Linked DNA regions of Homo sapiens: all the other regions are reported to be linked to region 1. Evidence: microRNA targets listed by miRTarBase, many of them from high-throughput screens and not tested one by one. Region 1 holds a microRNA gene; each other region holds the end of a gene's coding sequence.
The links. Region 1 holds the annotated microRNA hsa-miR-30a-5p (UGUAAACAUCCUCGACUGGAAG, at 7,269-7,290, opposite strand). A microRNA usually pairs through its seed, bases 2 to 8, with sites in the 3' UTR of a target mRNA and lowers its output. Matches are read on the target gene's strand: a 7mer-m8 pairs with bases 2 to 8, a 7mer-A1 pairs with bases 2 to 7 and ends in A, and an 8mer does both.

Region 1 (10,923 bases):
CATGTTTTCAACCTGAGGAAAGTATAGCTCAAATGCCTTCCACAACTTTTCTAGCTTAGTGTTCTTTCTTTTGTGATCTTCAGCACCTTATTCTTTACTTTAGATTCTCTGCCACTTACTGAGTAACCTTGAGCAAGTCATTTGGCTTTTCTATGCCTCAGTTTCCGTACATGTAAAGTTACGAAGGCACCTACCTCACAGAGCTATTGTGAGGATTAAATTATGACTAACACAAGTAAAGCACCTAGAACAGTTCCTGGCAGATAGCATACACTCAAAAAATGCCATTCAGAGTTTCATTATTACTAGCACTACTTAGGACATCATACACCATTACTACTGATTTCACACATACATCTTCTACCCCACCTCAAGAAAAGTTGCCTGAAGACAAGTATTGGCATCCAGAGGGAGTAAGGTGCATATTAGTACCCTTCCTTGCCCTCCTCCCTCTTCCTACCCCTTCTGCACTCTCCACCCGTATCCCAAATACACACACTGAGGAGTACTGCTATGATGGGTTAGGTTTACAGACATTTTCTTGGCCAGTGCACTGAGCTGAAGGTTCAAGGACATGTAGGCATGGTCGTTACGCCATTTGCACAGACTTCCATGGGGACGTTCTTCCTCCCAAAAGCAAGGAGGAAGGTGTGTTCTGGAACAGGTCCCAACTTTTGCTTCTCTTCCATCTTCTCAGATAATCTTTCTTCTTCAACATATGTCATAAAAAGAACTGTCCAATATAGGGCTCTAGGTTACTGGAGTGTGAAATTAATAATTCCAGTGTGGCTCATTAGCATTCTACAGTGGGCTTGGAGCAGATGTCCTACTTAGTAATAAGATGTTATTCTGTTTTCTTTTCCGCTCCTTAGCATCTATTTCCTGTGGAACTTTTTCAGAGAGGGGTAGCTGATTTCAGGTAGTGTTGGGGCTCTGGTCCACATACCATCATATTTGCACTCTTACGTGTAACCACAGGGATCAAGGTTTTTTCAACTTTGCATCTTTCAGCATCTAACACCATTCTTTATACAAACAGGCATTCAATATTTATTGAAGTAAGCTGTTGTTCACCCTTTTATTTGTTTATTTATTTATTTTGAGAGAGGGTCTCACTCTGTTGCCCAGGCTGGAGACCTTTTTATTTTTTAAATGTTACTAACATTCTGGTAGGGTCAGTCACAATGATAGAGGTACTATTATTTAACTAAACTAAATTCAAAATTTAAAGAACATTTCATAATAACAAATACTAGTCTAATGCCTACTAGTAAATTTCAAACGTCACTATGACCTACAAGGCTTTACAATACCTGGCCTTTGCTTACCTCTGACTCTGTTTTGCTGATTTTGTACCAGAATACTTCATAACTTTTACTTGATCTGATACCTCTGGTCATCTGCACTTGCTGTTGCCTCTGCCTGAATGTTTTTTCCCCAAAATTGCACATGGTTGGCTCCTCCTCATGACTTCTGTCTCAGGACAAAGAAGGAGCCCATAGGATGAAGACAAGGGAATGAGGGAATTATTCCCCTGAGGAAATGAAAATTGGATTGAGACCTAAAGTATTAATGTGCATGTATGTGTATGCGTATGTATGGGTATATGTGTTTGGGGGTAGAGGTGAATAAAATAAGAGCACTCAATCTATGCAGAGGGAAGAGATGAGGCAAAGATTTTGAGATACGAAGGAAAAGAACAAGGTTGTCTGAACAATTGGAAGTCAGTGGTCAGTGTTGGGGGACAGCAGTAGGTGGGGCATACATCAGATTACAAAGACCCCTTTAGAATAAGCTCTACAAGAGGGGCAGTATAGGACTTACACACATTAGCCCTAAAGTAATATATAAAACTGAGTTACAGATTACTCATTCTTCATAAGAAAGAAAGAAAAATCGGCCGGGTGCAGTGGCTCATACCTGTAATACCAGCACTTTGGGAGGCCAAGGTGGGCGGATCACGAAGTCAGGAGTTCGAGACCAGCCTGGCCAAAATAGTGAAACCTCGTCTCTACTAAAAATACAAAAATTAGCCAGGTGTGGTGCCGCACGCCTGTAGTCCCAGCTACTCAGGAGGCTGAGGCAGGAGAATTGCTTGAACCTGGGAGGCAGAGCTTGCAGTGAGCCGGGATCGTGTCACTATACTCCAGCCTGGGCAACAGAGTGAGACTCTGTCTCAAAAAAATAAATAAATAAATAAATAAATAAAATAGAATAAAGAAAAAAAATCATCCTGCCTTCATTGGTATTCTCTTATTCTTGTCTAATCTAGAAAATCAACAGTGCTAGAAAAGTGTTAGTCACCCTAGGACTTTAAAATTTCCTTCAGTCAAAGTGAGCTGCCATATCCTGAGATTCAGGGGATGGGACTGCTCTTACAAGTCCTTGAGAGCTTGTTTTCTAACTCTAAACTTAACCCTAACTTCTCCAGCACTAGTCTTTCTGTTGTCTCAGGTGGTAAACTGAATGAAAGTAGTTTTAATTAGCTATTAGCATATCACACATAGTCAATAAGAATTACATGTGTACCAACAACCTGAATAGATTCTATTCTATACAAAAAGAACAGAGAAATTACCTCTCAGTAAATTGCATTTTCATAAACTGAATTTTACTTTTTAATTAGTCTTAAAATTTTAGAATTTCTAATAACTCATGATGATTTATTTTTTATTACACAGAGATTTTAGGTCAAATTATAAGAAATCAATAAAATCAAACTAGAAACTAAAGTGCAGAAAGGTTAATTATTTCAATGAACATTATTGTTTTTATGAATTAACAGTGTGTGGATTTCCTAATTTCTTACTCAGTATCTGACCATCTAAATTTATTTTAAGCCAAACATAGATTCACTGGGGTATAAGAGTAGAATGAGAATTGCAGAAAGACAACTATATAGCTGATATGGCCAAGAAAACCATTGAAAGCATATAAAAAAGAACAAACGTTTGAAAATTAAATTTTCTAGGTGGGCATTACATAGTTTAAAGATTGTAATTCTAAAGATAATTTTAATCTAACATGATTAAAGAGTAATAAATTTAGCAAAATCACTTCTTTGATATGCGCTTAGATCTATTATGCACAAAACATGAACACTCAAAGTTGAATGTTTGGATTTGCAAATTTTACCAATTCTCTGACTCATTTCTGCAGGGTTATACTCAGTGCAAATAAATCTTCATTCAAATAGGGCAACAATGTTTTTATTGCATTAACATCACACATCTTGAAAATAAATATATTGTTACTGACTGTGGGAATTATGACTGCAAATGCTACTGTTTTACGGCATTAAGATATTTATTTTATATTTAACTGCATTTCTTTAGCTTTTACATAAATTTTCCTTCACTGACAGGCTATTGGTATAAGCATTTCATCTTTTCAAACGTTTACTAAAAAATACCAAATTCCAAAATTCAGAAATGGTAGTCAGGCCCTACAAGGAAACACATTAAGAATAACAAGCTGATGATATGTTATCATACTGTAAAATATTTTATATTTTCTAACACACTTGCTAATATGTTACTTCACATCCTGAAATCTCATGTTATCATTTTTGAAATGAGAGCTGTGGAAAGATTCTCATATTACTAAGAGTTGTAAAGGCACCCGATGGAGCTCCTTCATTAATTTCTCTAACCATTCAGGGCACTGAAGTCTGTGGGGACAGTAAGTTCACATTTAGTGTTTGTGCTAAATGAATCCCCAACCTACTTTGTTTTAATTTGCATCAAAAAGCCTCTACCCTGAAAGTACTGCATTATTAAGGTTATATAATAATGAGGTATACAAATTAGGAAAGGCAGATTTAGCATCACTTGCTTGGCAACATTAACTTGCCCATCACATTCATATTGAGATTTTAGAAGTGTACATTAGCGAGACACTTCTCCGCACATTACAACAGAAGTCTATTAAAGAATATTTAATTCACTGACTATTATTTCTAATAATAAACATAATCAGAGGATACTTTTTTGCATTTTACTTACTGGCCATTAGGAGGTGTAAAAATGAGGAGGAAAAATAATAATCATAAAAACCCTCAATCTCAAATGATTTAACAGCTTCATTATGTATTTGTTTGGCAGTGCACAAAAACAACTACAGTACGCACTAGGAAATTTATCTTCCATATCTATACAGAATACTTCTTATGATATAGAACCACATGAAGAAAGTCTTCTGTATTATTTTAGTGAGATTGTTAAGACAGTTCACTAAGCACCACCTTTAAAATTTCAGTAAGGTGCTTCCAAAATTAAGATAAACAATTAACTTCCTGTTACTCTTCTGATACAGAAAAATAACGGGCAATTTTGAATTAGTGTTATTAAGCTACCAAAAATTGATACCACTCAGGAAAGATTGTTTTCCCCTTGAATGGTAATGTTTAGCTAAAATTCTAGTAAAAGAAAACAGAGCAATTCTGAGAGGAATCTAAATAGAAAGGGGTTTCTCAGGTCTAGGTAACTAATTCCCATGCAGACGGCCTTCAAATGCATTTCCCTTGCCTCCACAGTCCTCTGGTCTGGTTTTAGTTATTCTGTAGTAGAGGAAAGGCTTCATACATGTGTAATATTTATAGACAACATCATTGTAAAATGGAGTGCAAGTTCAAATCAGAGTTTTAAGGTCAGGAAAAATAAGTATCACTTAAATCATTCACCACTGACACTTTCAGAAGCTCTTAACTTCCTTTAGAAATCTCCCTTTCAAGCATGTGCCAATTTTTATTTTGGCAAATCATGAATAAAAACTAAATGTATAATACTTTTGATGATTACTCAGTGTGGTGCTATTTTTTAAACATTACTAACTTTATAGCAACACTCACATTACATTTAACTAACACATTTTGACAGTGTTTTATTTTCAGTAACTGACTTACTACAGTCCATTTTAAGAATTTTATGTTTTAGTTTATAGATATTTTATTATGCTGATATGTGAAATTTTAAAAATTATAGTAAGAAAAAAAACACATGAAAGCAATTAGTAAGGGTTTCTAATTTATGTTAAATATTAGTTTATCTTACCTAAGCACATGCATGGTAACTCTGTCCACGTAGTGGTAGAAACATAATACTGTAAACTTTAGAAGTTATTTTTTTTGTAAAATAAAAAATTGCATCCAGATCTTATTTCAATTATGAATAACACACTGTTGATGTTATTTTATTTATTTATATGTATATCTATATATATATATAGATATATTTTTTTTGAGATGGTAGGCTCGCTCTGTCGCCCAGGCTGGAGTTCAGTGGCACCATTTTGGCTCACCACAACCTCTCCCTCTCAGGTTCAAGCAATTCTCAGCCACCTCAGTAGCTGGGATTACAGGCACGTGCCACCACACCCAGCTAATTTTTGTATTTTTAATGGAGACAGGGTTTCACCATGTTGTTCAGATTGATCTCAAACTCCTGACCTCAAGTGATCCACCTGCCTCAGCCTCCTAAAGTGCTGGGATTACAGGCGTAAGCCACCGTGCCTGGACTGTTGATGTTACTTTAAAATAGTAGTTTACATTATTACTGTGGAAATGTGGGGCACAAGACATAAGAAATACTAGGTATTAATTTTGAAACTACCCGGAATGGCTTATGGAGGTTTGTATTTGTTGATTTAAAAATAATTAAAAATGCTGTAATTTTTACAAATTAAAAAGTTCCCATAACTAATTATTTACATGAACAAAATGAACAGATAAAAATGAAAAATGGAAAATTTAGGGGCAGTAAGGTAAGGAAGAGGATATAAAATAACATAGGAAGAGAACCTAAAGAAAGTGAAGGTCAAAGATTTAGGAAAAGTTTAACCATTTCTTCAAACCTATAGTCATTTACCTAGGAAATACGGTCGGGTGACCCCAGAAAAACAGCCGAGTTATTTGCTCCAGGGGTTTTCAGCTTACCAATTAAAATAGACCACATTCTCAGTTCCAGACCCAGGGCCTGGCAGAGGCCTCTCCAAGCCCCTTGCATTTCAGTGGCAGTTGATGAACCTCTCATGGCCCAGCATGACTAATAGAGTTTTGATAGCTTTATGTATGAGGGAAACTTAAAGACATTTCTAACACATATTTCTCTCCATCCCAGGTATTAGAAGAAATGCTACTATTTTAAATAGTGGTATGATCATACTGTTTTAGTATCACTTCTTTATCATCATCATCAATGGGTATTAAACAGGGAAAAGAAACTCTTTTACATTAATGGAAACACTATATATTTATAAAATACTGTGTTTTAGAGGACAAAAGATATCACTTTCATATCTTTTTAAAGTGTCTAGTTTCTATATAAGTGTATCCTTAATATTTCTATTATACACTTAAATATTTCTCTTATACACTTAAATATTTCTATTTAAGTGTATAATATTAAAAATATCCGCCATAAGAAAAATACGCATTTACAAAAAAGGAAAATTAGAAATTATGTCCATCACAGAAATCTTCTACAGGATTCTGAATCTTAAAATTGTCTTCATATATTTAGGATAGAATTTGATGTATTTATTATTTTTAAGAGATATGAGTTATTGCATAAAGCTAAGTTAAAAGTTCAACCAAATGGAAACAGTATCCACAAATTCCTAAAATACTATTCTAATCATCTGAAACAAGAATAGGTTTTTCAAATAATAGAGTTAGTTGAATCAGTATTTGTTTGTTTTAGACACTTTATTAAGCTGAGAGCTGCTACTTTATTACTTAAACACTAAGCCTATAAGGAAATAAAAGGGGTTTAATCCAAGTAATGTGAAAATAACTAACCCTTCATCTTACTTTTTTCCCCCAAATAATTGTGGTTTCATTAATGGATTTTTTTTTTGTGAATGGGTCTAAAAAACACCTATTTTGAAACTGCAGAAAGGGCAGGACAAAACAAATCACTTCATAGATTTTTCTGGGAAATATTGCCCTACTACGCTTTTAAAAAAAATAAAAATACTGTAACACATTTCCTCATTTCTCTTACGAATACTTTCTTTTTGATATTGCAAATTCTATGCATACACAGAGCACCTCCTCAATGCCCTGCTGAAGCCCTCTAAAAATGTACAGACATGGTTTTAAAGTGATTTAATTTATACCATTTTAATTCAGCTTTGTAAAAATGTATCAAAGAGATAGCAAGGTATTCAGTTTTAGTAAACAAGATAATTGCTCCTAAAGTAGCCCCTTGAAGTCCGAGGCAGTAGGCAGCTGCAAACATCCGACTGAAAGCCCATCTGTGGCTTCACAGCTTCCAGTCGAGGATGTTTACAGTCGCTCACTGTCAACAGCAATATACCTTCTTTAGCCTTCTGTTGGGTTAACCTGAAGAAGTAATCCCAGCAAGTGTTTCCAAGATGTGCAGGCAACGATTCTGTAAAGTACTGAAGCCTCATTCAAACAGCAATATTCTAGAAAATGTCTCAAATTCAAAACAAATAAGAAGGCTCATGGATGTCTATTATTCATCACCGAGCTTCTAGTTTCTATAAAATTTTGTGATATACTAAAACAACATATATAAATGGTTTCATTCATTATTGTTAGCCACAAGAAGTAAATAGGCAAGTGGCCAGGTTACTTAATATGATTTCAACATGCATTATGTAATTACAATCCTTTAAGCAAAAGTGACCAAACACAGAAACTAAATTATCTTAACAGCGTAAAGCGTACATTTAACATCAAATACTGCAGTTGAGTGAACTTAGACTACCGTGAAAATATAAAAGGTCTACTTGGAAAGTTATAAACTCTGACAAAAAAAAAAAAGACTTACATGCTGCTTTTATAGATCACTTTTGCTCTAAAGTCTGCTCCCAGAGAGGACTTGTACAGTCAGCTGATTTTTGAAAGAGTAAGCAACAATCAGGAGAAAAACAGAAAAGAATAACGAGGTATAACACAGGCATATATCAGTATGTGGATCAAAGTTTCCCACTGGAAAAACACAGAACCTATCACTCACAACAGTGACGCACATTAACTCCAAATTTGAATGTTTTGAATTCCACTCCCATTCTCTTATGAAAATAAATGAGGAAAACTGAAGGTTAAGCTCTATCAGTCACTACTTTCCTGAAGTAATTCAAAACCATTCTGAATCTAGTGAAAGATTAAGTTGATACAGAAAAGTGGGTGTGCCTTTCCCTGAGATTTGTTTTTAGATGAAGTTACCGTAAGGTTCTTAAATTGTGTAAGTCTTAGTAGTTTGTGATCTCAAACCCGAAACAAAAATAAAATCCACACAAAAAGCATCATGTTTACTGAAACTAACAAATATGAAGAACTCCATAAATTACTTTCTCAAAGCAAAGGGTAACTCTATCCCATTAAGGTTAAAAAAGTTAATCTTTGAGTCAGCAGGTGAAAACAAGCTGAATTATGTTGTGGCCTTTTTCTTTATTAACTAAGGACTTTGAACTATTAAAACTTCCTAGGGAACCAGTTTTCTCAATGGGTCAAGTCACACAGGGGAACAAAGCAAACTTTATCAGTGCTGTGCAATTCTACATTCCAGAAATTCTTAGTACTTGGCATTCATATACCACTGCTGACTAGAGCTTGAGTCAATCCACCAAACTCAGCTATGGCTACCAACCTTGTGAACTTCTCACCAAGATACCCACTTCTTTTAAGTTAGCCACGACTAGACAGGCAGAGTACTCTTTAATTAAAATAGATAAATACCAAGGCTTACACCCTGGGGGGACATTGTATATCAGTGACTCTTTACAAAAAGAAAATATTTTTACCACCATAAATTTTTCTCAAAGTGACAGGTCCCCTACTTGCCTTGGAATCTTACCACTTTTAAATAACTGTAAATTATTAAATAACATGTAAAACAGTGACAAGTAAATACTAAGCAAACAACCTCAAATAACAAATAATTACTTAAATAATTCTATTGCCACCCTCTCACTTTGAGAATTGCTGATCCAAGTGGGACCTATACTACTCAGTAACCAAAAAAACAAGCATGTAGTTTAAGTAATAATGAGTCTCAGTTAAACTGGTAAAATTGTCTGGCATCTGACTGGAATAAATCTGCTTTAGCTTTCACATAGACTTCACCTAGCTCATATCTTGCTAAAAGAGGAGCCCACATACATACAGGCAATAAAGTGCTTTTCCATTTATGAAGTATTATAACTAAGATCTTATGGTCTTTAATTATTTTGTTTAGTGAAAATTTGATGTTTATTCATGAAGTTCTGAGCAAAACGCTGTGTTTTCAAAGTTATGTTAAGGAATTCATTGGATCAGCAATTCTCCAAGTGAGAGGGTGGCAACAGAATGACCAGGACAGCTTCTTCTAACCCCACATACCTGATTGCCTCTGCCACATCCACATTGCAATTCTTATTCAGCTGATGGGGAGGCTGCTGGGTATGTAAATTTTGCAAAAGCTATCAAACAATTTTGCTACACCTTCAGGGCAGAGAACCATTGATCTAGAAGGACTGAGCTAAATAAGTTTAAGACTAAAAAATCTTGCCATGACCTGAGAAATATGACCAGTAAATCCATTTAAAAATCGTGAATTAAAAACAAATATGGCAGAATAAGATCCAATTGTGTTCAATACATCAGACTCTGATTTGTCTTATATAACCCTAGAAATGCTTACAAAAAACAATGTACCTACTTTAAAACCATAAGGATACTCTTTAGCCCTGTTAGACAAGGTCTCTAAAGTCTTCCCACCCTAAATTGCAAATCTGGATGTCTGTACCCTGGACAGGTTTTATTATCTTCCTCACATCAGTTTTGTTTTAAGTGCTTGCAGGATTAATTCTTTCTGGTGGAGGGTTTAGAAGCAGCCCGAGATAAAGTGTAAAAATTTTTTTTAGCTACCCTGAACCATTCAATCCTCTTCCACCCTTCTCCTCTCATGTCCACATAACCTTCTCGCTCTCTATCCTTGGAGTGTTTGCAGTGAAACTCTAAGAATGAACATGTTCCATGTCAGCACTGGACCCAGTGCCCAGGCTCTACATCCTCCAATCCTCCATCTCTTTGGGGGCTTAGTGTCCAGGGTAGCTGCATTAATAGTTTTGGCATTCATCTTCTGTCTTGTTCCTTTGGTAAAACACACCTAAAGGCAAGAAATCTAGGTGGTCTTTGATATCTTTTCTAGAAAGCATACATAGAACTGATCTGAAATTGAAGTGACCTAAATGTACAAACAAAATTCTGCCCTTTAAAATTAATCTTTACCTTCTCTGATTCATTCTTTTACACATACTCCACACTCTTTTAGTCCAATTCAAGGGCTTCTAATTCATTATATTTCCTGCTAACGATGATAATGATGAACCTTCCCTTGAATTTCTTTGTAATTAATACAAATACAGACCTACCTACTCCTTGCCTCATGAAAGTGGACGAATGCTGTAAGCATTTACTGGGAGTGATTTCCCATGGATTGTGAAAATGTGAAAGATTGTTAACGAATTCAAATTCTAGGAAGAAGAGTATTATCTTGGATAGTATAGAGTTTACAGTTATAAGGAATAAAATCTCTTCTACTCTAGAAATGAGTATCGCTTAAATATCATTCTCTGATAAAATGGTAATGAAAAATAAATTGAGAATTAAGCAAAAGTGTATGTACTCAAGTTTAAAGCCTTAATTTTAATACAACCTCAACTATGTATTTGTTGTATGACAAATAATGCCTGCACATGATCTCATTTCATCCCTGCCACAGCAAGATAAGGCATCTATAATCATTACCATCACAGATAAGGACAACAGGCTTGGAGAATTGAAATCACATCCGTTACTCACTTTTCTATTCTGATTTTTTTTATTGTAAGCTTTTCTGAATCATTTGTGGAGTACTGGAGGGTGTGGGTTTCAATAAATATGAAGTAGTCAATCATAGTTCAATGAAAATT
Region 2 (10,923 bases), not on the chromosome of region 1:
CAGAGCTTCCCTGGGACGTTCAGGGAGCGCGGAGGGTGCGGGAAGGCTGGGGCGGGCGGAGGGAATTCGCAGAGCATCTGGCGGGCACCGAGGTCTGGGAACAGGCCTGGAGGCAGCTCGGTTCGTGGAGAGAGCGGGCTGCCCGTGGGCCCCACCCTGTAGGGCCCCCCAGTAGATCTGCTCCCTTGGTTCGGGTGGGCAGGGGAGGGCAGAGCGCAAAAGAGAAAAGCAGGGAAGGAGACGCTAGAAGAGCCACGGGTAGGCGCGAGTCAGAGTCCGAGGTTCGAGGGCTCTGGGCCGGCCGCATCTGCGAGCCCTCCGAGGCGCCGTAGCCCCGCCCCTCCGGCGCGTGGCGCCCATGACGCTAGGCGCGCGGGCCGCTCTCCTTACAGAGGTCGCTCTTGTCCGAACGGTCGGCCTCTGCTGCGCCTGCGTGGTCGGGAGGGGAAGTGAGGCGGTTTCCTCGGCGCCTTTTCCGGCAGCGGCGGCGGCAGAACTGGGAGGAGGAGTTGGAGGCCGGAGGGAGCCCGCGCTCGGGGCGGCGGCTGGAGGTAACCCCTTGGGCCGAGCTGGAAAGGCGGGCCACCTCGGTCTTCGCTCCTTTGTGGAGCTCTGGCAGTAACTCCCCTCCCTCTCTGTTTCTCTGCAGGCAGCGCACCGAGTTCCCGCGAGGATCCATGACCTGACGGGGCCCCGGAGCCGCGCTGCCTCTCGGGTGTCCTGGGTCGGTGGGGAGCCCAGTGCTCGCAGGCCGGCGGGCGGGCCGGAGGGCTGCAGTCTCCCTCGCGGTGAGAGGAAGGCGGAGGAGCGGGAACCGCGGCGGCGCTCGCGCGGCGCCTGCGGGGGGAAGGGCAGTTCCGGGCCGGGCCGCGCCTCAGCAGGGCGGCGGCTCCCAGCGCAGTCTCAGGGCCCGGGTGGCGGCGGCGACTGGAGAAATCAAGTTGTGCGGTCGGTGATGCCCGAGTGAGCGGGGGGCCTGGGCCTCTGCCCTTAGGAGGCAACTCCCACGCAGGCCGCAAAGGCGCTCTCGCGGCCGAGAGGCTTCGTTTCGGTTTCGCGGCGGCGGCGGCGTTGTTGGCTGAGGGGACCCGGGACACCTGAATGCCCCCGGCCCCGGCTCCTCCGACGCGATGGGGAAGGTGCTATCCAAAATCTTCGGGAACAAGGAAATGCGGATCCTCATGTTGGGCCTGGACGCGGCCGGCAAGACAACAATCCTGTACAAGTTGAAGCTGGGCCAGTCGGTGACCACCATTCCCACTGTGGGTTTCAACGTGGAGACGGTGACTTACAAAAATGTCAAGTTCAACGTATGGGATGTGGGCGGCCAGGACAAGATCCGGCCGCTCTGGCGGCATTACTACACTGGGACCCAAGGTCTCATCTTCGTAGTGGACTGCGCCGACCGCGACCGCATCGATGAGGCTCGCCAGGAGCTGCACCGCATTATCAATGACCGGGAGATGAGGGACGCCATAATCCTCATCTTCGCCAACAAGCAGGACCTGCCCGATGCCATGAAACCCCACGAGATCCAGGAGAAACTGGGCCTGACCCGGATTCGGGACAGGAACTGGTATGTGCAGCCCTCCTGTGCCACCTCAGGGGACGGACTCTATGAGGGGCTCACATGGTTAACCTCTAACTACAAATCTTAATGAGCATTCTCCACCCATCCCCTGGAAGGAGAGAAATCAAAAACCCATTCATAGGATTATCGCCACCATCACCTCTTTCAATTGCCACTTTCTCTTCTTTTGAATTTGAACTCTGGAGTTACTGTTCTACAGTTTGGCGGGGACGGGGCTTGGGGGTTTTCTCTTTTGTTTGTTTCCCTTTCTTTTTCCTTTTTTTTTTTTTTTTTTTTTTGTTGGCTTTGCGTTAGGATGCTCTGATCTGACATTTGACATGAACACAAAGTTGCTAGATGCTCTTGTTGACTTCCAGCAGATGGGATGGGGGAAACACAGCAGTTCTTGGTAAAGTCCTTTGTAATAATAGTTTGATTTTTTTATTTCGAGAGAATCTTTCATTTTCCTATGTATGCTTTTTTCCTTTTTTGCCCAGTTTCCTTATCACTTGCTGTAGATGGCTTATTTTGCATTCATGCAGACTATGTTGCAAGTCTGTTTCATCTAGTAAACTGAAAATTATTGCTTAATCAAACTGCCGTTTGTCTTTTATATTTAAGGCCTTCCCCCCCCTTCCTTATGAGTTCTAACTTAGTAATTTCAAATGTGACCTTTTATATCTAAGACCAGTATAGTAAACTTAGCCCACAGTGGCAAATAATGAGTAATATTGTAATATGTTCCAGTTGCACCTCAGTATGTTAAACAGGTAATGTAAGAAGTTCTCTGAAATGTCAGCAAGTAAGTTCTGAAACACATCATGCATGAGTAGGAATAAAACCCAAGTTCCCCATAACGTAGATAACTTAATGCTGCATAAAAATATGAAAGTGTAACCCATGAAGGACACTTTTTCTTTCCACTGCAAAGTTAGCCACTTTGCTGTTTTTCCTCTTTTTTAAACTTTGAAAATAGACTCTTTCCAGAAATTGGAGCAATAATGGTGTTACCACACACAGATTAAATAATTTGTAGATATTTTAAGTGACTTTTGGGCAAAACTGGAATGTATACTTTTACCTTGTTTCAAACACCTAAGACCAGTAATTTAAAAATTACTAAAAGGTTTACTTTGTTCATTAATAAAACATTTAACAATTCAAATTATATGCACCTTTTACCTAGTTGAAAAAAATACACATTCCTGTTTTCACATTATAGCAACTGATTAAGCTGAAGCTGTAAGTCATTTTTTATAGATGAGTGATCCGCATCTCCATCAATTAGAACACTGGAAAAGATGTTTTATAAAAGAGGTATTTAATTTTGTTTGTAGGATTAACTCATGCAAATAATAAAAAAGATATCCTGTTGGTTCAATAGTACACTGTCTCCTTTAAGGAAGGAAGCGTGATGAATGAATGATGTGTAGACTTGAGGGATGACTATTAAAGGGGACGTAGGATGAAGAGAAAGAACCTACAGATGACAATGAATGTAAACTTATTTTTCTTCATGTGTAAGCAGTGTGCTCGCTGGTGATATCCAGATCCTAACAAGATTACTTGGTTAGCTGGTTAGGACCAGTAACTGGATTGCGACCACTATGATAATATTTTGAACCAAATGTTAATGCTTGATGCAGAATTGTAAAGCAGCATCTGGTTCCTATATAGCCTTAAGGATTAATTTTAGTGATCCTCAAGGAATTAAATAGGGAATTTCAGAAATGTAGACTGCAAAGGCAGTATACAGGAAAAGGTGGAGTGGGTTTTGTTTATGAGGGTGTCTGAAAACTAAAATTGAGCGGGATATCATGGTATAGTTGGACAGTATTGGTCCTTCACACTTTGGCCATATTGTATAATGGAGCTTTTACCAAAGATGTATGAGAAGTGTAAGACTATAAAAAAATGAACTATTCAAAGTAAAACTCTTAACAAACATTTTACTTAAAGCAGATGCAAAAGGGTATTCTCATGTAGGCTCCTGTTGGTGCAGAGGGATTTTTTTGATTTCAGGATACAACTAAAGTACGAAGTTCTCAGTTTCACTTTAGTAGAAAGAGCTCTAGAAATGAGGCTGATAAACACATCTAAGAACACTGGTTGCTTTCTAAAATTTCCAAAGCTCCACCATAAATGTAATTTTTAGTGTTTCAAATGATTGCATTTTAAAGTATATAAATATGGGTTATCCAATATCAATGCTATAGTAACATCCTGAAACAAAACAAGCACAAAGGTATAAATGCCTAAACTGGAGGAAACTTGAAACCCTCATGTTAAATCTTAAATGTAGTATTTCTAACTTGTGAAGACAGATTGGTAGGCAGCCATTTTTTTGTGTCTTAAAATAACTGGGGGCATAGTTAAAATTTTATACATCAAGTGATTGCTATTATTGAATGTTGCAGGTGAGATGTGGTTATTTTTAGTTTATTTGAAATGTTTGACTGGAAAGGGGGGAGGGGGAAGCAAATATTTGAAATTTGGAAAACCCTAAACCTTTTGGTAAGAAATTGTAATTTTCACTTAAAATTTTCTTTAAGGATATAAGAGGTTTATAATTGATGTAGTTAAATTGAACAATAACCATTGGTGACTGGAGCAGGTAATTATAGCCTGCAGAAAAAATTATCTAAGAATTTTAAAAATAAGATCCTGAAGTTGTTTAATTGCATCCATTTCTGTATTTATGTGAATTTATAAACTGCAGTAAGTTTTGAATGAGGTTAATCTTGTTTAATATAAGTAAATGAGTCTGTAGACTGTGATCTCCCCAAACTAAAAAGTACAGTACTTGGAATTGTGTTCTTTATGGTTGTAGTGTTGGTAAAGCACTAATATGCAGAAAATAAAGGAATTACACAGTGCAGTTTCTCACGTTATGTTACTCGCTTGAACTAGATAAGTGGGACGTGTGGTGTGTCGGGCCATGTTATTCTCCAGGGTATATGGTAAAAAGTGACTTAATTTGGAAGTTGCCTGACTTTTGTAAGAAAAAAAAATCAATTTGGTTCTTGTAAATGCTGGCTGTTTGAGGTAATGCGCCCTGTTTTAGTTCCACCAACTTAATCTGATTGTATGATAATTTAGAATACCACAGTTAAACAATTTTTAAAATTTGAGGTCCCATAGCAGTCTTTATTCTGCTGTTTTTTCCAAATTACAACCTTAGCATTTTTAGAAGTAGAGAATTGTGTCTAAAGAATTGGCCTTAAGTCTTAAATTCAGGCCTTAATTCTTTATAGACTTTTGGATTTCAAAGTTTCTTTTAGAGGTCAAATTGTTTGTCCTATCGAAATGGCAAAACTGTATTCATTTAGAAAGTAAAATAGTATCATAGAGGATAAGGTTGGAAGAAAGAAAAGTAAAAGATGAATAACTTGTTGGATAAAAGGGTTTGAAAGACATTCTTGTAAGCCTTTCCTCCTATATCAGCAATTTTTATAGTGTGATTTTAGAATGTCTTCATGTGATCTCTAGTATGATTTAACCCCATGTTAATATTTATTAATATATTTAGTACTGTGGTTAAGATACTGTGACAAAGTATCAATTTTTCAGTGCTAGCAGTAGAAAATATTTTCCCCATGAATGGGTTTTTATGTTTTAATATAAGCTTAGAAGTAGCCATAATCTGAATGGTGATGGAGCTTACAAAATTCCAAAAGTTATTTTCTCAATACCTTGCCCAATATGTATCAGGATTACAAGTAAGGTAAGTTGTATCTTTCCTTATAGGTAAAAACTGTATTTGTAAAACCACATACAGCAATTATAAGAAATTTTTAAGTGATTAGTCACTGAACATAATATATTTGGAGTATAATATTCAATATTATCTAGCCTTTTGCTTTAATTAAATGGTAAGGATTAGTAAAGGTTACAGTATTAGAGAGTTTACAAAAATGGAATGTTGGGAGATGGAGCCATAGAAGAGGCAAAGCAACTTGTTGCTTTGCCAAACAAAAGTTGCCAGACTAGACTAGTGAGCTGAACAGGCAAGGAACACAGAGGTGAGATCAAGGAAGGCAGAACAAGAATGGAGCGGGATTTAGGAATTAAAGCAAATCTGCAATTAAATATAACTGAAGTAATGGTAAATTTCAAGAGAACTAGACTGTAAGAACTAACCTCACATTGTGGGAAAATAAAAATTTTAACCTTTTCCCCCTTTATTTGAAATGTTCTATGACTACTTGAAAGAATTTAAAAATGAAAGTATTTGTCAGTTTTGTCCTTGAATATCTTTCATTTGTTATAGAATACATATTTTGTCCATAGTATTTTGTTTTATAAGTGTGAGGGTAGATTTTTTTATTGAGAGCCTACTAATATGCCTGGCACTGTTGAGGTGCAGGAGATCGACAGTGAAAAAAAAAACAAAAAATCTGTATTCATGGAACTTACCTGGAGGGTTGGGGGCAGAGAACAAAGATCAGATGATAAGTAAAAGTCTGTTAGGTTATATGCTATATATTGTACAATATGTTATGTATGTACACATATTAGGGAATAGGTAGGTGTGTTCGGAGAAGACCTCATTGAGGTGATGTTTGAGCAGATACTTGAGGAAATGTTAATATTGGTATAATTGACATAGTCACAGAAAGATAATAGTACAGTGTAAAGCAGAGGTGGGAAAACTGGCCAAGGGCAAATCTGGCTGCAGCCTGTTTTTTATAGGGACTGTGCTAGAATGGGTGTTACATTTTTAAAGGATTTGTAAAGTTTTTAAGAAAAAACCACGAATATGTGACAGACAATATATGGCCTGAAAAGCCTAAAATGTTTACTATCTGGCTCTTAGGAAAAACATTTAACCTCGAGTGTAAAGCCAATTTTTAAAACATTATCAAAATTTATAGGAAATGGAACAATTGAAAGTGAAAGGCCATTGTTAAATGAATCTAATCAAAATTTTAGGACACAGAGGCTGGGCGCGGTGGCTCACGCCTGTAATCCCAGCACTTTTGGAGGCCAAGGCGGGCGGATCACGAGGTCAGGACATTGAGACCATCCTGGCTAACACTGAAACCCCATCTCTACTAAAAATACAAAAAATTAGCCGGGCGAGGTGGTGTGTGCCTGTAGTCCCAGCTACTCGGGAGGCTGAGGCAGAATGGTGTGAACCTGGGAGGTGGAGCTTGCAGTGAGCCGAGAGCGGGCCACTGCCACTCCAGCCTGGGTGACAGAGCGAGACTCCGTCCCAAAAAAAAAAAAAAAAAAAAAATTAGCGCACAGTGACATAGAATTTCCACATTTTATACATTTAGTGAGCTAAGACTTGTTATTGAGTAGTCTAACCTGGATTTTGTTTTTCTAAATGAGTTTAAATGCGTGAAATCAGTAGTTTCTCAGTTTTGATTTTAACACAGTTGTTTAAAACTGTGTGAGTCACTTCATTTTAAATATTTCTTTTATTTTTGTGGTAGTTTTACTGGTCTTTGGATTTAAGTTAAATGTGATTCTCTGTTACGTGTCCTTTCTTCCAGATAACCTAGATTAGTTTGGTGTAGGTTCAGATAACATCGTTTAACTGTGGCTTTTTTATCCACTCTTTCTGTAATTAAGTCATAAGTCTATTATTTTTATGGAGAAAGTTTGTAAGGGGAAGTGTTTTATTGACGTGGAAACTTATGGTGCATGATATTTGGTTTCCAGTATTATTCCTCTAACCAATATAAACTAGAAAAATTTGCTTCACACATGGATTATTTCTTGCCTAGAGGGTTATATATTAATACTAAATCATACTAAATAATTTCTACAAGTAGGATGAGAAATCTATATTTTAAACTATTTAAACTATTACAAAGTTGTGAAACCTATAACTATTTTAGACTACTACAAAGTAATCTAGCGGAAGTTATGGAAGTAAATTTTATTGAGGACATTTAGAAATGAGCTTTAAAGAAATGAAAACATTTGTAGTTCATAGAAAGACCTATGTGAAACTAGTTATTTATGATTATAAAAGTTGTTTTCCATTACAACTGAATAGCCTGAGAAGGTTATAGCATATGAGAGGGAAAAAAAAACATTGTTGTGGTAGAGCAGAAATTTGGATCTTTGAAGTTGGTTATAATAAGGCAAACCAAAGTGCTTTCTCTGCATGTCTTTATTTTTTATTTTATTTATTTATTTATTTATTTTTGAGGTGGAGTCTCGCTCTTGTAGCCCAGGCTGGAGTGCAGTGGCTCCATCTCAGCTCAGTTCAAGTGATTGTCCCGCTTCAGCCTCCCGTGTAGCTGGGATTACAGGCATGCGCCACCACGCCCAGCTAATTTTGTATTTTTAGTAGCGATGGGGTTTCACCGTGTTGGCTGTTCTCGAACTCCTGAGCTCAGGCAATCCACCCGCCTCGGCCTCCCAAAGTGCTGGGGTTATAGGTGTGAGCCACCGTGCCTGCCCATGTGTTTATTTATTTATTTATTTGAGAAGGAGTCTCGCTCAGTCACCCAGGCTGGAGTGCAGTGGCGCGATCTCGGCTCACTGCAACCTCCGCCTCCCAGGTTCAAGAGATTCTCCTGCCTCAGCCTCCCAAGCAGCTGGGACCACAGGTGCACCACAACACCTGGTTAGTTTTTTTTTTTTGGTTTTGTTTTTTTTTTTTTGTATTTTTAATGGAGATGGAATTTCACCATGTTGGCCAGGCTAGCCTCGAACTCCTGACCTCAGGTGATCCACCCACTTTGGCCTCCCAAAGTCCTGGGATTACAGGTGTGAGCCACCGCGCCCGGCCCACGTGTTTATTTTTAAAAGTTAGTTTTATGAATAAGTCCTAGGTTGGAGTTAGGCCTAAGGAAATCAAACTCAGAAATATTCTAAGAATAGTAAGAGTTAGCATTTACTGAATGTTTGCCATGTGTCAGGCATTGTTCTAAGCATTGAATGGGTATTAATTCTCTAAATCCTCACAGCCACCTTGGGAGATAGGGCTCTCATTTTATAGTTGAAAAAACTGAGGCATACAGAGGTATATGTTAATAAGTAGCAGAGCCTGAATTTGGATTCAGGTAGTCTCTGCTGTACTATGAATGTGACTAAGGTGAACCAGTGCTTACTCATGTTCTTAGTATCTTTTTGGTGTATGTTTTCTTATAAATACCTGGCTTTAAGTAAATTTCCTATAATTTTCTTATTTTATCATCAATAAGATTTATTTATTTATTGAGACGGAGTCTTGCTTTGTCGCCCAGGCTGGAGTGCAGTGGCGCGATCTCGGCTAACTGCAAGCTCCGCCTCCCGGGTTCAGGCCATTCTCCTGCCTCAGCCTCCCGAGTAGCTGGGACTATAGGCGCCCGCCACCGCGCCCGGCTAATTTTTTTGTATTTTCAGTAGAGACGGGGTTTCACCGTGTTAGCCAGTATGGTCTCGATCTCCTGAACTCATGATCCGCCCGCCTCGGCCTCCCAAAGTGCTGGGATTACAGGCGTGAGCCACCGCGCCCGGCCATCAATAAGTTTTGAGTCCCTGTATAATTTCACTCTTGTGTACAGTGGAAAACACAGTATTAGGCACTTAGGGAACTTTTTTTTTCTGTAAAAATCAAATTTGACTGCTTGATAGTGAATTTGACAGATCATTGTGAAAAATAGGAAAAATTAAAATTTTCACTCAGCTGATTATTTGTATACTTATATATAGATTTCTTTTAAGAAAAGTTTTATATGGAATGCTTCATGAATTTGTGTCATCCTTGCACAGGGGCCATGTAATCTCTGTATTGTTCCAATTTTAGTATATGTGCTGCTGAAGTGAGCATCCCAGTTAAATTTCAATTAGATAAACTATTTTTTTAGTACAACTGCATCCCAAGCAATATACTAAAATTATATATTAAATTATATATACTATATATATAAATTATATACTAAAACTTAAATTGAAATTTAACTGGCCATCCTATATTTTACCTACAATCCTATATCTGACTTTGAGTGGTACGAAAGGAGGTAAGATTCAAAACGTCTAAGTTTAAAAAGATATTTAGGAACCCTCAAGAACTCTACCAAGTAGTTTGGATATTGTTTTGTGTGTAATGGGAGCCACTGAATTTTTACATACGTAAATATATATATATACACACATATCTTTCTGTGCATATAGATAGATAGATAGCAGGAGAGAGTCACAGTGTTTAGGAGTATTTAGTAGCTTTGTATAGAATCATGTATCAAGATTATGGATAGAGGTTGGAAGAAAGAAGTCCTTTCAGGAGACTTTGTTGATAATTCAGTTGAGAAAATGAGGGCCAAGTACAGTGTAGAGAAATGAGAAAGAAGTGAGAAAATGAAATAAATTGGTGAAATATGTTACTTGTGGAGGAAGAAAGCGTTAACAATTGTGATCTGAATTCTTTTTTTTTTTGAGACAGAGTCTCGCTCTGTCACCCAGGCTGGAGTGCAATGGCATGATCTCAGCTCACTGCAACCTCTGCCTCCTAGGTTCAAGTGATTCTCCTGCCTCAACCTCCCATGTAGCTGGGACTACGGGCGCCCACCACCATGCCCCGCTAATTTTTGTGTTTTTAGTAGAGATGGGGTTTCACCATGTTGACCAGGCTGGCCTTGAACTCCTGACCTCAGATGACGCGGTCGCCTCAGCCTCCCAAAGTGCCGAGATTACAGGTGTGAGCCACTGTGCCCCGCCTTGATCTGTTTTTTTTTTTGAGATGGAGTTTCACTCTTGTCGCCCAGGCTGGTGTGCAACGGCGCGATCTTGACTCACTGCAACCTCCGCCTCCCAGGTTCAAGCGATTCTCCTGCCTCAGACTCCGGAGTAGCTGTAATTACAGGCGCCTGCCACCACGCCCGGCTATTTTTTTTTTTTTTTTTCTGTTGTATTTTTAGTAGAGACAGGGTTTCACTATGTTGGCCAGGCTGGTCTTGGACTCCTGACCTCGTGATCTGCCCGCTTCGGACTGCCAAAGTGCTGCGATTACAGGTGTCAGCCACTGTGTCCGGCCCGGCGTTGATCTTAATTCTTACATAAAAGATAATGATAACACCATTGGTAGAAATCAGGATATATAGCATACTTCAATGGAGAGACATTGATAATTGGGTAAAGTACTTTGTTTGCAGTGCTGAAAAAGAGTTTGAATCTGTTAGGGATTCTCTCTTTTGTAACTATTCTTAGAGTAGTGCTGCCCGATAGAAACATAATGCAAGCCAAATATGTAATTTAAAATTCTTAGTGCTCACATTTAAAAAATAGAAGTGAATTCAATTTTAATAATGTTTTATTTAACCCAATATATCAAATATTTCAATATGTCAGCAGTATGAAAAAGAATTTTTTTTTTTCTGAGACAGAGTCTCGCTTTGTCGCCCAGGCTGGAG
Region 3 (10,923 bases), not on the chromosome of region 1:
CAGACAAACTCAAACTGAGGGACATACCACACAGTAACTAGCCTTGACATCTTTAAAGGTGCCAAGATCATGAAAGTCAAAGACTGAGGAAGTATTCCAGAATGAAGGAGACCAAAGGGAAATGAAAAATAAAGGCAATGTATGATTCTGAATTACATCCTTTTGCTATAAAGGATATTATTAAGACAAATTGGTGAAATGTCAGTGGGGTCTGAGGATTAATTGTTAGTAATGTATCAGTGTTAATTTCCTGGTTTTGATGGTTATAGTCATGTCGGAGAATGTTCTTGATTGTTGATTGTAAGAAGTGCACAGTCGAGTATTTGAGGATGATGGGGTATTAGGTTGGCAGTTTGCTGTCAAATGATTCAGGTAAAAATTTTTTTACTCTCAACTTTTCTGTAAATTTAGATTGTTTCACACTTTTAAAAATATGGTATATCTTGGTTACCCTCTGTATGCCAAACACTGGGCAGGTACTAAAAATAGAAAAGTAGAGTAACATGAGTCCTTACATCATTCTTGATGATACCTGAGTCTAATGGAGGGTACAGATATGTAAGTGAATAATTACAGTGCAGTCTGATCTGGGTTATACTATGAATATATACAAAGTACTATAGGAAATAAATTATGACAAATGAACTAGGTTTATTTTTTTGACAAGTTTTTTGGAATGACATTTAGGTAGGGTAATGTAGAAGAAAATAAGGGCATGAATCGGAAAAATGATAGATTAATTGTCAAGTTTTAGAGTAGTGAAAAAATCATCCCTTTAAAAAGAGATGCAGCATAGTATAACATAAAGAAACCATATTTAAGTCAGAAGAACTGTTTAGGACTTGGTTTTACCATGCGTTAGCGCTGGTGATCTTGAGAAGTCTAGCTAATTTATTTGAATTTTAGTTTTGACTTTTTAATAAAGTTCCTGGCTCTCAAAGCTCATAGATTATTGTTAATATTTGTACTGATTCCTTATACCTAATTGTAGTGACTTATACCTAATTGTAGTGACTGTTTAACCTGTATAATTAATTTAAGATGAATTGGTAGAGAGCTTGTAGTGACAGTTGAATAAATGTAAACCTCTGCTTATAATGCTGTTTGTAGTAGAACATATTGTAATTGTTCATTGCTGAATGTAATGCTCCATTTACTTCATTGCTTTACTGTTGTAGTCTTTATCATTTTGTTTTTCTGTTTATAGATCTGTTGGGAGAACGTTTTGCACAATGGATGGTCGTGGAAGCCCAGTTCACATTCATCCTTCCTCAGCAGTAAGTACTTCATTTTTAATAAAGGGAAGAAATTTGTAAAGTTGTAGAAATAAGTAATATACAAATGTCTTCTACTTTTCACTTTGGAGTTAAATTTACATATATCTATATTACATAGATCTATAAGGGTATTGGTTGGCCTGTGCCTCCTGTTTGAAGAAGATAGGAATTAATTGAGAAGGATTTGGACTATTTGGTTGGTTTAATGTGGAATAGGGCAGGTTATTGAGTTACCATCATTAAAAGAAATGTTTTGTATAGCTTCATGAACAGGAAACCAAACTTGAATGGATCATTTTTCATGAGGTATTGGTTACCACCAAAGTCTACGCAAGAATTGTATGCCCAATCCGTTATGAATGGGTAAGAGACTTGTTACCCAAGTTGCATGAATTTAATGCACATGATTTGAGCAGTGTGGCCCGACGTGAAGTGAGAGAAGATGCAAGAAGGAGATGGACAAATAAGGAAAATGTAAAGCAGCTAAAGGGTGAGTAAATCATTTGTTCTACTCTTAACCACTATGCCATACTGCTTCCCAGTAGTACTTCACTATTTTTGTTTATAAAAATGTTGTGACCCACCTGGGCAATGTGGTGAGATCCCATCTCTAGCAAAATAAAAATAAAAATTAGCCAGGCATGTTGGTGTGCACCTGTAGTCCCAGTGACTTGGGAGGCTGATGCAGGAGGATCGCTTGAACCCAGGAGTTTGAGGCTGCAGTGAACTGTGATTTCACCAGTGCACTCCAGCCTGGGGGTGACAGAGTGAGACACTATCTCTAAAAAAAAAAAAGTGATGATTTATGCATTATTAACTCAGAATCCCCTTTGTTTCCAAGGGGCTTTTTCTTTCTTTCTTTCTTTTTCTTTCTTCTTTGAGACGGAGTTTTGCTCTTATTGCCCAGGCTGGAGTGTAATGGTGTGATTTTGGCTCACTGCAGCCTCTGCCTCCCGGTTCAAGCTATTCTCCTGCCTCAGCCTCCTGAGTAGCTGGATTACAGGCATGCACCACCACGCCTGGCTAAGTTTGTATATCCAAGGGGCTTTTTCTATGAAATAATTAGGACCCTGGTTGGGAGGCATAAATAGTTGTGGTACTGAAATAGGACAGAAAGTTTTTCAGCTCACATACACAGAAAACTTCTTAGTAAAGCTTTTTGAGGCTGAATGATGAAGCATATTGTATTTTCTTTATTTGACATCACTGCAAAATGGAATGGTGAAGAGTTTTGCCGAATAAATCATAGAAAAATCTTTAGAAATGTTAGCCACTAGGGAGGCCAGGCATGGTGGCTCACGCCTGTAATCCCAGCACTTTGGGAGACCAAGGCGGGCGGATCACGAGGTCAGGAGATCGAGACCATCCTGGCTAACACGGTGAAACCCCGTCTCTACTAAATATACAAAAAACTAGCTGGGTGTGGTGGCGGGCGCCTGTAGTCCCAGCTACTCGGGAGGCTGAGGCAGGAGAATGGCGTGAACCCAGGAGGCAGAGCTTGCAGTGAGCCGAGATTGCGCCACTGCACTCCAGCCTGGGCGACAGAGTGAGACTCCGTCTCAAAAAAAAAAAAAAAAAGAAAAGAAATCTTAGCCACTAGGTGTTCTATTACAGTGTAATAACACTGCCACATGCTTGAATTAGGGTCAGTTTTTCTGACTCATTGGCCTTGGTGCTCTTAATTTTGTAACCATAGACTACATTGCTTTTGAAAGGGCAAAATTTAATTTTTCTCTTTATTGTTTTTACTTTGTTAACACTGAAAAATCAGGGCTTCTCTTTCTCTTAACATTTCTAGTACTGAATCTCAAAGCTAAGTTTTATTGGATTAATTTGTAATGTTTTCAGATGGAATATCGAAAGACGTCTTAAAGAAAATGCAAAGAAGAAATGATGACAAATCCATATCTGATGCACGGGCTCGTTTCCTTGAGAGAAAGCAGCAGAGGACCCAGGACCACAGTGACACACGAAAGGAAACAGGCTAAGGTGGTGAACCCTCCAATTCAGGAAGTGGGAAAAGGAGCCAGGAAATGTGCTTCTACTTTGCCAGTTATTTCAGACAGCACTACCAAGAGGAGGTGGTCAGCACTTGTTATTGGCCTATGAACTAAAAGCAAATCAAAGCTCATAAATCAAAGCTCATCAGTTCCCATAAATGCAGTTGTCAAAGAAAAGATTTGGTTGCCATAGTCATAAGCAATGATACATGAAACCAATGAAAGACAGTACATGTAATAATATTTTCCTCAGTACAATTTTGCTGGCCTTAACTGGTATCAAACGCTGTCATTGAGATGTTTTCAAAGAACATTGAGTTGTATTTAATCAGCGTGTACTCCATTTGCATTGAAGCATTAAAAATTATTTTTCTTAAAATCTCTTTAAGGCCTTCTTGTTGCTGTTAGAATAGTGCTATATATCAGGTATGTGACCATTTATTTCAGAAGGCTGAACATAAGAGGTTTCTACTCAGCAATACTTAGATGTCTAACTGTTTAATTGCTACAGAGCTTTATAGATATTTAGAGAAAAGACTTAATCAATTAGTAAATAAAATTGCCTATGGCAGGATTCTTTCTTGAATTAATATTAATCCTTAAATTGATTTTTCTGGGATTATACAAATTCCTTTTTATATAAAAGTATATTGTTTAAAACAGTAGCTATAGCCATTAACCAAAGGACAGATGATATATATATATATGATATATATATATATATAAGTTCTTTTTTAGCTGTACCTACGTACTTATATCAGCACCATGTATGTAGGTGTGATAGTACTTTCAAACAGCGCCTCCACCTGGCCTACTCTGTTATTTCCACCTGTTTGGGTAGGGCCATTTAACTTCCATTATGCCAAACTTGGGATGGGATTTTCGAAGCAGACAACACTATTTCATCGTGTTTCAAATTGGAACCTTGAGGCTAGTTAGTATCACACTCAGGCCACACTCAGCACTTGCCCACTCTTGTTTACTGCCTTGTATTCTAGTTATTTGTGTATTTGTCTCCCTCACTAGATTATACGCTCCTTGTGGGCAGGGACTGTGTCTTTTTTCATCTTTGTATCTTTCATGCACCTAGCATAGTGCTTTGCACATAGTAGTCACTCAGTGTTTGTTAAATAAAGCTATTAGTGTCATTAAAATTCAAAAGACAGTATAATGTGTGTTTTTAGATATTTTGTGTAAAAATTAAGAATCTAAATTTTTTATCGGTAACTCTTCTAGTTATTTCCTTTGGAATCTAGTTTTATGTTCAATAATAGAAACTTGAAATCTTTATCAAAAATCACAAGGACCCAAATTCATGTATTTGTCCCTAAAGTAAGGTGAGTGATGATGGTTTCTCTAAACCTTTCCAGTGTTTTAATTTGTTAATTTTTTTTTTTTTTTTTTTGAGACGGAGTCTCACTTTGTCGCCCAGGCTGGAGTACGGTGGCATGATCTTGGCTCACTGCAAGCTCCGCCTCCCAGGTTCACGCCATTCTCCTGCCTCAGCCTCCCGAGTAGCTGGGACTACAGGCATCCACCACTATGCCTGGCTAATTTTTTGTATTTTTTAGTAGAGACGGGGTTTCACCGTGTTAGCCAGGATGGTCTTGATCTCCTGACCTCATGATGCGCCCGCCTCTGCCTCCCAGAGTGCTGGGATTACAGGCGTGAGTCACCGCGCCTGGCCTAATTTGTTCATTTTTATCTTTAGTGCTCTAGACACTGTTATTAGCACATATTAATCATTTAGTTCTGTCAGTTTCTCTTCTCAGGTGTATTGTATAAGGGCATATCCTCAGATGTGGTGGGAGTGTGTGGATTCTTGGAATGAGAGCTCTTCTAGTTTAGTAAATATTAAGCATATATTCTGAATCTACACCTCACACTCAAATTATATCTGTTGTTTCAGTAATGTCCTTTATGGCATTTTTCTGTAGTTCAAGATTTAGTCTAGGATCACGTATTGTATTTAGTCTCTTAATCTGGAAAAAGTCCTCAGTCCTTGTCTTTCACAACATTAACATTTTAAAATAATATAAGCTAGTTATTTTATAGAATGTTCTCAATTTGGGTTTCTCCAATGTTTCTTCATGGTTATGCATTTTTAACTGGAATACTGCATAAGTAATAGTGTCATGGTATCACGTCTGGAGGTACATGGCATTTTCCCCTTGCTGGTGTTATTAATGTTAATTACTTATTAGGGTGCTTTTTAAATTATATCAACCTGGTTATCCTTATAATTCATAAATAATTTGAGGGAGAGATACTTTGACATTATATAAAATATCTCGTTCCTCATAAAATATGACATTTTGTATTTACCATCAATTGATGATTCTTGCCTGAATCCATTTTATTCTTATGGCTGCAAAATGGTGATTTTTTTTTCTAATTCTTTTCTATATTTGTTGGTATTATATTGTAAGGAAGAGTTTTCCTTGAAGGATGAATGTCTGATAAACGGGTGGGTGCTAAGAAGAGCATGGATCAAGACAGAGAAGTATTTATAGAAAGCCCAGGGGGTGTTTGAGATGGTGGCAAACAGTTGAGTTTACTTGGTGCATAGAATATATATAGGAGAGTAGGTGGCTCAAACTGTTAAGGTCAGATTACAGAAGGCTTTGTAAACCAATCTATAGAATTTGGAATTATTTTATGGATTTGTTAGAAGGGAAGGACATCATTACAGTTTTGGGATAATTGTGATAGTGTTATTGATAAAAAATTTCTGTATCTCAGTTTGCATTGAGAGGACTGTGAGAGCAGTAGTATCAAGGGAATGCTGGATCTAGTTAAGGCAAGAACATGGAAGCAGCCTTGCAGGAAAGGTGGGTTTTATGGAGGAGTTTGTTCTTAGAAGAATGGGAATACACCTTCAAGTTACTAAATGAAACAAAACAGAATCAAAAACAAATTTTTTTTTGAGACGGAGTTTTGCTCTTGTTGCCCAGGCTGGAGTACAATGGTGCGATCTCGGCTCACCACAACCTCGGCCTGCCGGGTTCAAGCAGTTCTCCTGCCTCGGCCTCCCGAGTAGCTGGGATTACAGGTGCGTACCACCACGCCTGGCTAATTTTTTTGTGTTTTTAGTAGAGACGGGGTTTCACCAGGCTGGTCTTGAACTCCTGACCTCGTGATCTGCCCACCTCGGCCTCCCAAAGTGTTGGGATTACAGACATGAGCCACTGCATCCAGCTGACAAATGTTATAATAGAAAAATGGGCAAAGGACATGGTCGGTCCTTTTATAAAAGGGGAAACAGGAGGAAGGGTCAGTAAATAAAAGACAATGAACCTAACTTGTAATTAGGGAGACGGCATTCATTTCCATCAGATTAGCAATAATTAATACTCCTGAAAAGTGTTGGTGGTGAAGAATAAATTGCTTTTATTTAATTAATTAATTTTTCATACAGTTCTGTTGCCCAGGCTGGAGTACAGCATGATCATGGCTCACTACTTCTTTGATCTAGGCTCAAGCAGTCCTCCCACCTTAGTCTCCTGAGTAGCTGAGAGTACAGGTGTGTGCCAACACACCCGACTGGTTGTTTTAAAATTCATTTTTTGTATATATGGGGTGTCACTATGTTGCTTAGGCTGGGTCTCGAACTCCTGGGCTCAAATGATCCTCTTGCCTTGGCCTACCAAAATCCTGGGATTACAGACGTGAGCCACCATGCCCAGGCCAGCTCTTATTTTAGAGAACATTTTGGCAATATCTAGTAAAGTTGAAGCTGTGTACAACCTGATACCTAGTAAGTCCACCTCTAGACGTAGGTGGTCTTTGACTAGCGTATCACATCTGGAGGTACATGGCATTTGCCGCTTATTGGTGATACTAGTTTTGTTTACTTAGGGTGGACCCAGTAAGTCCACATTTAGACTTAGGGGTTTCTCTAGACTAGGAACTCTCAGACTATATACAATATTCTGTGCCTCATAAAATTGGACTCCTATAGATTTAGCGTTAATTGCTGATGATAAATACATTAAAAATGTTAAATACAGCATTCATTACAATGTGAAATACACCATTGTTGCTAATAGAAATCTGAAAACAGCACATATATATATAGCTATATCAGTAGGGAAAAGGTTTAATAAATTGTGATATGTTCTTACTGTTGAATCCTACAGCAGTGAAAGTGATTTCTGAGATTCCTGATGTGTACTCCTATTTAGCAGAACAGATGAACCAGTTCATATTCCAACCAGCAATATATGAAAATGCCAGTCTTACTACACCTCATAGTTCCTCAGTCTTCTAATTATTGACAAAAAGGTGCCTCATTATCTTAATTTACATATTTAGATATTTAATGCTTTTTCCATGTGTTCAAACTGTAGGGAATAATAAAATTATCTGATTTGAATTTGATAAGCCAGATAGTAAATATTTTAGGCTTTCTGGACATGTAATTTCTGTTGCAGCTACTCTGATGTTGTAGTATGAAAGCAACAACAGACAGTACATGAATGAATATCACTTTGTTCCAATAAAACTATGGAGAATGAAATTCAAATTTCACATGTCAGCAAATACAGTCAGCCCCCTGTATCTGGGGGCTCAGTATCTGGGGTTCCACAACCACAGATTCAACCAACCACAGATTTCAAATATTCCAAAGAAAATCCAATAAAAATAATACAATAATGAAAGATAAAGAAAAAAAGAGTATAACAACTATTTACATTGTATTAGATATTATAAATAATCTAGATATGATGTAAAGTATGCAGGAAAATGTGCATATATGCAGACACTACCCATTTTATATGAGAAACTTCAGCATCAACCAGATTTTGGTATCCTCAGGGGGAAGTCCTGGAACCAAACCCCAGCTGATACTAAGGAATGACTGGATTATTGTTTTGATTTCAGGTTTTTTTTCTTTGAGATGGAGTCTTACTCTGTCGCCCAGGCTGGAGCGCAGTGGCATGATCTCGGCTCACTGCAACCTCCGCCTCCCAGGTTCAAATGATTCTCCCGCCTCAGTGTCCTGAGTAGCTGGGATTACAGGCACGTGCCACCACACCCAGCTAATTTTTGTATTTTTAGTAGAGATGGGGTTTCCCATGTTGGCCAGGCTGGTCTCAAACTTCTGACCTCAAGTGATCCGCCTGCCTTGGCCTCCCAAAGTGCTGGGATTACAGGTGTGAGCCACCACGCCCACCAGTTTCAGTTTTTTACCACTTGTATTTGAATCTAGAAAAGCTACTTTTTAATATTCCCATTCTAACTTAAATGATCACTTCATTTGCAAGAAGAGGTCTTAATGAAATGTCAGATTTTTCTGGCTTTTACTTTTTCTTCATAGCAGAGTTGATGAGACTAAACATAATATCAAGGAATCAATAAATTTAAATAGTAATCTTTAATCACCCAAAGATTTTTAAAGTAATCCTTATTACTTGTTAGCTGTTCCTTTAAACTTAATACATGAATAATACAAAATTCCCTTGTGAAGCTGTTAAAGATTTTTCAAAGAAAATGATTAGTCACAGCTGGGCATGGTAGCTCACACCTGTAATCCCAGCACTTTGGGAGGCCGAGGTGGGCGGATCACGAGGTCAGGAGCTCCAGACCAGCCTGGCCAACATGGTGAAACCCCGTCTCTACTAAAGATACAAAAAATTAACTGAGTGCAGTGGTACGTGCCTGTAATCCTAGCTACTCAGGAGGCTGGGGCAGGAGAATCGCTTGAACCCATGAGGTGGAGGTTGCAGTGAGCCGAGATCGCACCACTGCACTCCAGCTTGGGCAACGGAGCAAGACTCTGTCTCAGAAAAAAACGACAATGATTAGTCACATTCTTTGTCCAGATAAAATCCACATATTTTTCCCACCTATTAATATTATTACTTGGTTCTCAGCTAAAATACAGGAAATGAGATGAGTGAACCCAAAATACAGCCTAGCACCCAGTTTGGTGCTTTGTATATGGGAGGTATTTATAAATGATTGTGCCAACTCCAGATGCGATTACTAACAACATAAAGTAGCCTAGGCTTCAAATTAAATGGGTCATGTAATCAATAAATGCTTTAATAGCTGGAGAAGTAAGGTAAATTGAATTTTTTTTTTTTTTTGAGACAGAGCCTCACTCTGTTGCCCAAGCTGGAGTGCAATGACGCCATCTTGGCTCACTGCAACTTCCGCCTCCCCGGTTCAAGCAATTCTCCTGGCTTAGCCTCCTGAGTAGCTGGGACTACAGGCGCCCGCCATCACACCCAGCTAATTTTTGTATTTTTAGCAGAGGCGGGGTTTCACCGTGTTGGCCAGGATGGTCTTGAACTCCTGACCTCAAGTGATCCACCCACCTCGGCTTCCCAAAGTGCTGGGATTATAGGCGTGAGGCACCGTGCCTTGCCGATAAATGGATTTTAAGCTGAGTCTTTGAGGGAAGAGTAGGACCTGCACTGAAACAAAAAGACAATTTGTGGGGTTGGGGAGAGGAACCAGATGTAAACAATGGAAAGGTTTTGGTGTCACTTTGAGAAGGATTTTTTGGAAGGGTTTTGCAATGTCCATTCTGTATCTTGGGTTAACACTAGTAAGTCAAATGGAGAATAATTTGAGTGTCACTCATTCCTACAGATAGAAAAATTTTAAAGTAGCTTGGGCCGGGATTTTCCTTTTATCATGTGCCATTGTGTACGTGTCTGCTACTTCATTTAGTTCCTTTTTTAAAAATGGAATTTTTATCACTTCTGTGCAAAGGTTAAATTTTTTTAATAAATTAATAATGGAATGTTTAAGCCTTCCTCAGTAATGAGTATAATCTTATCTCTCCATCTGATCTGATGGGTCAACTATATAGTAACTAAAATAGACTGTAACAGCTGTCTTCATCATTAGTTTTTATTTTCACCATGCATGTAGAATGCTTTATATTGTAGTCCCTTATTATCTGAGGTTTCATTTTCTGATGTTTCAGTTACCTGTGTTCAACTATGTCCAAAAATAGGTAACTACAATGATATTTTGAGAGACCACATTCACATATAACTTTTATTATAGTACATTGTTATAATTGTCCTATTTTCATTGTTAATATCGTACTGTGCCTAATTTATAAGTTAAACTTTATCATAGGTATATATGTATAGAAAAAACATAGTGTATACTGTATGGGGTTCAGTATTAGCTGTGGTTTCAGGCATCCTCTGTAGAGGTCTTGGAATATATCCCTTGTGGATAATGGAGGACTACATATTTGACTGGTTGGTGGAGTTAACCTAAGGAGACCTTTTCATGACTCTTTAAACTTTTAGGTTTAAAGGTTGACTCGGAAAAGAAAAACAATTTATATCAATAAATCTAAGGTAGGCTTATATGAATGCTGCATACTTTTCATCACTGCAGTGTTGTGGAATGAAAAGTAATTGTATGGATTTTATACTATACAACATTAAACTCATAGTTATTTGGAATATGAGCAACCAGGAAAAGAAAATAACCAGGTATTTTGTTTGATTTACATAGTAATCTACTTTTAGTAGTCATGACAGGATGAGGTATGGCATTTTAAAAAAAGTAATTCCTAGTATTGCCTAGGTTTGGTACTACTCAGATTAGGTTACATTTGCAGGAGTACTATACAACAACTGTTCACTTTGATGAATCTGAGGCCTTTAAGGTTC

Region 2: miRTarBase lists ARF6 as a target of hsa-miR-30a-5p. The part of its 3' UTR that is shown has no 7-base or 8-base seed match.
Region 3: miRTarBase lists DHX40 as a target of hsa-miR-30a-5p. Seed matches in the 3' UTR shown: 7mer-m8 at 4,254-4,260.

Annotation. Positions count from the first base shown.
Region 1 is chr6:71,396,327-71,407,249 of GRCh38, forward strand. MIR30A (microRNA 30a) reads right to left here and starts at 7,295; the gene lies at 7,225-7,295. RefSeq lists an enhancer at 5,763-6,291.
Region 2 is chr14:49,892,607-49,903,529 of GRCh38, forward strand. It overlaps ARF6 (ARF GTPase 6), which reads left to right and starts at 476. Exons shown (of 2, transcript NM_001663.4): 1 at 476-551; 2 at 650-4,448. The coding sequence starts at 1,131. The coding sequence ends at 1,658. It also overlaps the pseudogene RNU6-189P. RefSeq lists enhancers at 36-135, 1,006-1,325, 1,356-1,405, 3,548-3,697, 10,234-10,353 and silencers at 226-615, 656-845.
Region 3 is chr17:59,603,908-59,614,830 of GRCh38, forward strand. It overlaps DHX40 (DEAH-box helicase 40), which reads left to right. Exons shown (of 18, transcript NM_024612.5): 16 at 1,208-1,277; 17 at 1,539-1,767; 18 at 3,126-4,438. The coding sequence ends at 3,265. Among named protein-coding and RNA genes, the nearest start is that of CLTC, 11 kb to the right of the region's middle.